2 separate regions of the Homo sapiens genome follow, and region 2 is linked to region 1. Evidence: fine-mapped expression QTL. A gene starts in region 1. The other region holds a variant in brackets. All regions are shown on one strand. Distances are from middle to middle. Region 1 holds the start of MGAT4B (alpha-1,3-mannosyl-glycoprotein 4-beta-N-acetylglucosaminyltransferase B). Region 2 has its middle 16 kb from the start of TBC1D9B.

Region 1 (4,512 bases):
GTGGAGGCCAGGTTCCAATCTGGCCTCCGACTGGCTACGTCTGGTTTCACCAGGGGTTTAAGACAGATTTTCTACATGTGACAACGAGATGGGTTCACATAAGAGCCCAGATTCCCAGCTTCTCTTGAGGCCTCCAAAGACCTGGTACTACTGGGTCACCACAGAAACAGTGACAGCCCCTCGACAAGGGAGGCCTATGTCACCCCATACTCATACCTCACAGGATCCTTAGGCTTCTATCCCCTAGGGGCTGGGCTCGTGAATCTAAGTGCTCCCCTTCTTTGCTCTCCTGTTCCCCAGGCCCTCAGAGAGCCAGCCTCCTGGATGCCCCCCAGACACAGTGGGTGCCATGGAGCCAGTGCCTCTCCCTCACTCTGCTGTCCTGGAGCCTGGCTCCCTGTGGTAAGCCAGGCTTGCAGAGGTGGCTCCTGACATCAATCCGCGGGCATGTGGCTGCTGCGGGAGGCACACACTGGCTCAGGACAAAGGGCAAGGGCTCACGGCTCTACCCACGACTCAAAGAGCATGCCCCAGCCCTTCAGATATGGCCCCACCTAGGCCTTCATGCCAGTGTGCTTTTATAGTCACCCTGCCAAGGACCCAGAATGTCCTTCCCCAGGTGACACACCCTACCTACAGAGAATTCTGCCCCAGCCATGCCTGCCCTTGATAATATACCCCGCCAGCACGGCCTCTGCCCAGCCATCCCTCCCGTGTCAGGCAGGCTCCCCGCAGAGTCCCTGGGTGATGCCTCTCTGGCCCTGGAGCCCCAAGGCCAGCCCAGGCCTCTGCTCTGGCAGAACAAGTGCGGCAGGCGGGCGTGCTGGCAGAGCTCGGCGTGGGTAGATGGAGCTCGGAGGGTCCGGAAGGGTCCAGGTTCCCTCGCCCTCCTCCGCAGCCTCTCTGGGATGGCGCTCCGGGACAGGGAAACAGGGAAGCAGGTGGCGGGGAGGCCGAGGGGCAGCTGGACTCAGCCCGCTTAGGCCTCCAGCAGGCAGGCAGGCAGGAGGCCACTCTCCCGGAACCTCCAGGCCGGGGGAAGAGCGCCTCCGAGGGCTCAGGCCCTACTCGGCCCCACCATCGCCAAGACCGGCCAGCGGGGCGGCGCGGGGGGATCGGCCCGCACCCTCCGCCTGCAAGAGCGCTGGGCGCACGCGGAGGGCGGGGGCCAGCCCGGGAAGCTCGGGGTGCGGAGGACGGGCTGGGGCCGCACGGGAGCGCAGGGCAGCAGGGGCCGGGCTGCCTCAGGACGCCTCCCTCCCTCCCTCCCTCCCTCCCACAGGCCGGATGCTGCCGACGCGTTCTGGGCGCCGAAGGGAGTCCCAGGACCGGGTGTCACGCCGGGGTCGCCCAGGCCGGCGCGGGGCAGCAGGCAGCAGGGTGGGGGGGTGCCCTCGCGCCTGTGTCCCTCACGCCGCCCCAGCTCCTGCCCAGGTGGCTGTGGCTGGCGTTCCGGGACCTCTGTGACCTTGGGTCTCTGCCCCTCTCCGAGAACCCCACGGGTCCCCAGCTCAGCGTCGGGACAGCTGCGCCCGCGGAGTCCGGTCCGGAGCACCCACGGGCGCGGCCCGGGCCCGAGGAGAACGCCGCGGCTCCAGCAGCAAACAAGTGGGGGAGGGTGGGAGGGGCGTCCTCGCGCCGCCCGGGCGGGGAAGGGGCGCCTGCGTCGGCTTCCGGCCGCCTTCCGCGGCCACCGCCGGGCCCGCTCCCGCCGCCGACGCCCAGGTGCGCCAGGTGCGGGCCGGGCGGGGGTCGCGCTCACCTTTCTGGCCGCTGAGTGCCGCGTACCAGGACAGCGAGAGGAAGGCGCACAGGCAGAAGAGCAGCAGCGTCAGGAAGGTGCCATTGCGGAGCCTCATCTCCTCGGGTGCGCGGCGGGCGCCCGCGGGGCCGAGGCTGCATGGCCCGGGGGACCGGGGCCGGGGCGCAGGGGTCGGAAGGCGGCGGCGGCGGCGGCAGGGGCCCCGGCCCCGGGTCGGGGAGGGGCGGGGGGCCCGGGGCCGGGCGGGGACCGGGCCAGGGAGCGCGCCGGCCGCCCCTCAGGGCGCAAGCTTTGTGCCCTGTACTCAGGGAAGAGGAACAGGCTCAGAAGGGCAGAGGCAGGTATCAGGCTCACTGCAGATATCAGGGGCGCGGGACACTGGCGGCCTCGCCTCCGCGGCAGGGCCGGGCCGGGCCGGGCTGGGCTGGGCTGGGCGGCGAGAGCCGCGGCCCGGCCTGGATCTGGGGCCTGGATCTGGGGCCGCCGCGGAGTCGACGGCGCAGGGCGGGGCGGCCCGGATTTAAAGGGGCCGCAGCACCGCCGTCGCCGGCGCCGCGAGGGGGTGGGGTGGGGGCCGGCGGCCGGGATCCCGATCGGCTCCCGCAGCCCCGCGTGGGCTCGTGCGAGTCGGCCTCAGGTAAGGCTGGAGTGGGAGTGCAGGTCGACCGCAGCCGGGGCGGGGGGCGGGCGGCGGGGGCGGCGCTCCGGGACCCCGGTACCCTTCTCAGCAACATCTCCTCCGCGCGCGGACCCCGACCCCATTCGCACGTTCTCGGGGCTCTTTCCCGGGCGTGAGGGGCTCTGGGTGGCGCGGGGGACTGGGCGGTTGAAGCCGGGAGCGACCGCTGCCTTCGCTGCCGCCCAGGGCGCTTCCCCGCTCAGGAGCTTCCTCTGGGCCTCTGGACGGAGGCGCGCAGGGGCCCGGGAGGCGGGAACGATGGGCCTTTCTAGGCGGTATCAGGGCCGATGCTCGTGGATGCAGAGCAGTGACCAGCCCAGAACCGTACCGGCTTCCCGGGGCAGGGGCGGCCCGAGAGCGCCGCTAACGGGAGCAACGGGCCCTGCCCCCGGTGGTGTAGGGGCCACCTCGCCCCGCCCAGCCCAGCCCGATATTGATGGGGGCCCACGCCTTCATTGTTTTTTTGTTGTTGTTGTTTTTTGTTGTTTTTTGTTTGTTTGTTTTTGAGACGGAGTCTCGCTCTGTTGCCCAGGCTGCAGTGCAGTGGCGCAATCTCGGCTCACTGCACCCTCCGCCTCCCGGGTTCAAGCGATTCCCCTGCCCCAGCCTCCCGAGTAGCTGGGACTACAGGCGGCCGCCACCACACCTGGCTAATTTTTGTATTTTTAGTAGACACGAGGTTTCACCGTATTGGCCAGGCTGGTCTCGAACTCCTGACCTTGTGATCCGCCCGCCTCGGCCTCACAAAGTGCTGGGATTACAGGCGTGAGCCACCACGCACGGCCCATTTGCGTTCTAATTTCAGGCGTTCCTCAATCCTCTGTGGAACCAGGAAGGGCGCAAATTATAAAGGGACTGGCCCAGCGCCGCCTCTGGGCAGGCTTTGGGCAGCGCCTGGCCCGCTGCCGGCTTGGACCTCCCAGACCTAGGGGCCCGGTTCCTGGTGGAGGCTGCAGGGACCTCTGCCCCACCCGCCCGGGGGAGGCCCGAGGGGCTGGACTCAGACTGAGATTGAATGCGGCTTTGTCTTCCTAGTTCAGCCCCGGCCCACACCTGGGGCTGAGTGGAATCGGGAGCTTCGAGGGGTCTGGACAGAGAGATTGATGCCAAGAAGGGGGTGGCCGAGCCAGAGGTTGAAGTGGGCTGGATCCTGAGGCCCCCTGTTAAAGGAGAGGGCTCCCCACTCAGTGCTCCTGGAACTTTCCGAACTAGAGACTGGGACTTATAGGAGCCTTCTAGAGGAAACTGTCGTGTTTTCACAGGTGTCTTCTATTTGTGGCAAAGGATAATGGCTTTTCACTTAGGTTGTGACATAAAGGGCCTTAGAAATTGTTAATGAGTTACTTAATGTTAAAACTTAGTCACCCAGAGGCCGGGCGCGGTGGCTCATGCCTGTAATCCCAGCACTTTGTGAGGCCGAGGCAGGCGAATCACGAGGTCAGGAGATCGAGACCATCCTGGCTAACACGGTGAAACCCCGTCTCTACTAAAAAATACAAAAAATTAGCCGGGTGTGGTGGCTCATGCCTGTAATCCCAGCACTCTGAGAGGCTAAGGCAGGAGGATCATTTGAGCTCATCAGTTCAAGACCAGCCTGGGCAACATAGTGACACCTCATCTCATTAAAAATTTTAAAACAAATTTTTTTGGATTTTTTTGTAATTTTATTTATTTATTTATTTATTTTTAGTTTATCTTATTTTTTTTTTTGAGACGGAGTCTTGCTCTGTCGCCCAGGCTGGAGTGCAGTGGCACTATCTGGGCTCACTGCAAGCTCCGCCTCCCACCTTCACCCCATTCTCCTGCCTCAGCCTCCCGAGTAGCTGGGACTACAGGCACCCACCACCACGCTCGGCTGATTTTTTGTATTTTTATTAGAGACGGGGTTTCACCGTGTTAGCCAGGATGGTCTCGATCTCCTGACCTCGTGATCTACCTGCCTCGGCCTCCCAAAATGCTGGGATTACAGGCGTGAGTCACCACCCCGGCCTTTTTTTTTTTTTTTTTTTTTAAGACGGAGTCTCGGTCTGTCGCCCAGGTTGGAGTGCAGTGGCACCATCTCGGCTCACTG
Region 2 (4,000 bases), 120 kb after region 1:
ATTAGCTGAGCATGGTGGCATGTGCTTGTAGTCCCAGCTACTTGGGAGGCTGAGGCAGGAGAATCGCTTGAACCCAGGAGGTGGAGGTTGCAGTGAGCCAAGATCGCGCCACACGCCTGTCATCCCAGCACTTTGGGAAGGCGAGGTGGGTGGATCACGAGATCAGGAATTCAAGACCAGCTTGGCCAACATAGTGAAACCCCGTCTCTACTAAAAATACAAAAAATTAGCCAGGCATGGTGGCAGGTGCCTGTAATCCAGCTACTCGGGAGGCTGAGGCAGGAGAATCACTTGAACCCAGGAGGCGGAGGTTGCAGTGAGCGGAGATTGCACCACCGCACTCCAGACTGTGTGACAGAGTGAGACTCCGTCTGAAAAAAGAAAAAAAAGGAAAAAGAAAAAAAAAGATGGCCCTACCGGCAGCCTATGGTAGTCTCAGCTCCTTTTCATACTCACAAACACTTGACATGGTCAGTCTTGGAAAAGTTTAGGCATTCTAGCAGGAGTGTAGGAGCTTCTCATTGTGGTTTTAATTTGCATTCTCTGATGACTAGTGACGTTGAGCATCTTTTCATGGGCTTATTAGCCAACCGTGTATCTTCGTTTGTGAAGTGTTTTGTTCAAATCTTTAGTCCATTAAAAAAACTGGGCTTTTAAAAAAAATTTCTTTTTTTAATTTTTTTTGAGACAGAGTCTTGCCCTGTTGCCCAGGCTGGTGTGCAATGGCGCCATCTCGGCTCACTGCAACCTCCACCTCCTGGGTTCAAGAGATTCTTGTGCCTCAGCCTCCTAAGTAGCTGAGATTACAGGCGTGGGCCACAATGCCCAGCTAATTTTTGTATTTTTAATAGAGATGGGGTTTCACCATGTTGGCCAGGCTGGTCTCGAACTCCTGAGCTCAAGCGATCTGCATCAGCCTCCCAAAGTGCTGGGATTATAGGCACAAACCACCACGCCCGGCTTGGGCTGTCTTCGTGTTATCAAGTATGAGGGTTTAAAAAAAATTCTAGGCCGGGCACAGTGGCTCATGCCTGTAATCCCAGCACTTTGGGAGGCTGAGCCAGATGGCTTCAGCTCAGGAGTTCAAGACTAGCCTAGGCAACATGGTGAAACCCCATCTCTACTAAAAATACAAAAAGTAGCCAGGTGTGGTGGTGAGCACCTGTAGTCCCAGCTACTTGGGAGGCAGAGGTGGGAGGATCGCTTGAGTCCGGGAAGCAGAGGCTGCAGTGAGCCGAGACTACACTACTGCCCTCCAGCCTGTGCTACAGAAAAAAAAATAATAATAATAATCCTCGATACAAGTCTTGCCAGACATACATTTTGCAAATATTTCCTCCCAGTCTGTGACTTGCCTTGACATTGTTATAACAATGTCTTTTGAAGATTAAAAGTTTCAAATTTTGGTAAGATCAAATTTATTGATTTTTTCCTATTATAGTTTGTGCTTTTTGTGTCAGATTTAAGAATCCCAAGGTCACTAAGATTTTCTCGTACATGTTCATCTAGAAGCTTTATAGTTTTAGTTCTCACACTTAGATGGTCCACTTCAAGTAAATCTTTGAAAATGGCAGAAAATAAGAGTTGAAGTTCATTTTTTTTTTTGCATATGGATATCCAATTGTTCCGTCGTCGATTGTTTAAAAGATTATCCTTTCCCCCACTGAACTGTCTTGGCACCTTTATGGAAAATCTATTGATTGTAAATGTGTGGGTCTATTTCTGGGCACTATTCTGTTCTAGCAATCCATTTGTCTGTCTTTATGCTGTTAAATTAAATTTAGACTAAACTGCTTCCTTATATATTTTAAGTTCGGCCTAAAGGTTTCTCCATACACAGTGAACTGTCACCTAAATGGATGTGTGACAGACTGTAACCGATTCTTGTACCAAGGAGCTGAGTCTCAGCCAATCCCAGCGGCTGAGTTTCAGCCAATCACAGGTGGCCAACAGTGCAAAGCGTGTTCAGTGAGGCAAAGGCTGAGCTTCACCCATCCAGCTGGTTCTGTACCTCACTTCCCTTTCCTGTACCTCACTTCCCTTTTTCTGTCCATAAATCCAACCACGGTGCAGCCCTGGAGTTGCTTTGAACCTATTTCGGTCCTGGGGGCTGCCCAATTCTTCAATCACTCTTGCTCAATTAAACTCTGTTAAATTTAGTTTCCCTAAAGTTTTTCTTTTAACAACACTAACA[C/T]CATATTGTCTTGATTACTGTAGCTTTACAGGTCTTGAAATTAGGATTAGAAATTCTCGAACTTGATGGGCACGGAGGTTTGCGCATATAATCTCAGCAGATTACTCAACAGACGAGTATTAAATGAAAGCATTTCAGTGCTAGCTCATGAGCTGCAGGGCAACCTCTGTTTTCTTAACTTTTCTATATTAAAAGTCTTCTGCATTTAAAAAATTGGCATGAAGTCCAGCTTGATGGTCAGTATCTGTAATCCCAGCTACTAGGGAGGCTGAGGTGGGAGGATCGCTTGAGCCCGGGAGTTCAAGTCCAGCCTGGGCAACACAGTGAGACCCTGTCCCTAAACAATTTTTTTTTTTTAATAAATAAAAATTACTGCTGGGCGTGGTGGCTCACGCCTGTAATCCCAGCACTTTGGGAGGCTAAGGCGGGTGGATCACCTGAGGTTGGGAGTGCGAGACCAGCCTGACCAACATGGAGAAACCCTGTCTCTACTAAAAACACAAAATTAGCCAGACATGGTGGCGCATGGCTGTAATCCCAGCTACTCGGGAGGCTGAGGCAGGAAAATCACTTGAACCCAGGAGGCGGAGGTTGCGGTGAGCTGAGATTGTGCCATTGCACTCCAGCCTGCGCAACAGAGCAAAACTCTGTCTGAAAAAAAAAAAAATAAATACAGGCTGGGCGCAGTGGCTCATGCCTGTAATCCCAGCACTTTGGGAGGCCGAGGTGGGTGGATCACCTGAGGTCAGGAGGAGTTCGAGACCAGCCTGGCCAACATGGTGAATTAAAAATATAAAAATTAGCCAGGCATGGTGGCGGGTGCCTGTAATCCCAGCTACACAGGAGGCTAAGGCAGGAGAATTGCTTAAACCTGGGAGGTGGAGGTTGCAGTGAGCCAAGATGGTGCCACTGCACTCCACCCTGGGTGACAGAGTGAGGCTATCTCAAAAAAAAATTAAATATAAATAAAAAATTTAAAATGGGATCAATTCAAAAATGCTTCCTATCTATCCACAGTAGCCCTCTAAGAGCAAGGTCCCACATAAAATATGAGCTATTTCATTTCTGACAAAGGATCCTCAGCCCCCAGAAGCATCAGCACAATCCAACAGCACTAAGGGAGGAAGATGAAAAACAAAGAGCTGATGACAGGGGAGTTTCCTCTCTTCAGGATGAATTAAAGCTATCTGCCATATTGTGAAAAGTGTATTTGGTTTTTATCCGGGCTTCCTGGCCTACAACTGCTAGAATCCTCAGAATCTCCACAGTGGTATCTTTCATATGCTAAAGAGGTGGGTGAAGGCGGGCAGCCCCCAGGTAGCTCCGGGATGGGGCTGGTCACCAGAAGGACCAAGGCAGGACTAGAGGCCTGGGACTTTCAGCCTCACCCCCCAGCCTCCAGGGAGCGGAGAGGGGCTGAAAGTTAAGTTGATCGCCCATGGCCAACAGTTTAATCAGTCATGCCCACGTAATGAAGCCTCCATAAAAACCCAAAAGATTGGGACTGGGATACTTCGGGGATAGCTAAACACGTAGAGGTACCGGTAGGGGAGGGCACTGAACTCCAAGCTGCTTCTCACATGCCTTGCCCTACGCATCTGTCAACCAAAAAGAGAAATAACAGGCATTGGAACTAGAGAAGCATGGCTGGGTTTCTTCTGTTTTTTCATTTATTTATTTATTTATTTTATTATTTTCTTCTTTTTGAGGTGCTCTCACTCTGTTGCCCAAGCTGGAGTGTGCAGTGGTGCGATCCTAGCTCACTGCAGCGTCAACCTCCTGGGCTCAAGCAATTGTCTTGCCTCA

The links. PIP is the estimated chance that this variant, and not a neighbour inherited with it, causes the effect.
Region 2: its variant is the best candidate, but not a certain one, in a credible set for the expression of MGAT4B in whole blood (TOPMed, PIP 0.57).

The regions. Positions count from the first base shown.
Region 1 is chr5:179,804,725-179,809,236 of GRCh38, forward strand. It overlaps MGAT4B (alpha-1,3-mannosyl-glycoprotein 4-beta-N-acetylglucosaminyltransferase B), which reads right to left and starts at 2,142. Exons shown (of 15, transcript NM_014275.5): 1 at 1,763-2,142. The coding sequence starts at 1,859. It also overlaps a transcript of SQSTM1 not described here. RefSeq lists silencers at 997-1,416, 1,427-1,556, 1,687-1,756, 1,987-2,546, 2,717-2,886 and an enhancer at 1,298-1,959.
Region 2 is chr5:179,921,647-179,925,646 of GRCh38, forward strand. It overlaps a transcript of RNF130 not described here. Among named protein-coding and RNA genes, the nearest start is that of TBC1D9B, 16 kb to the left of the region's middle. The variant C/T (reference allele first, on the strand shown) is at 2,195.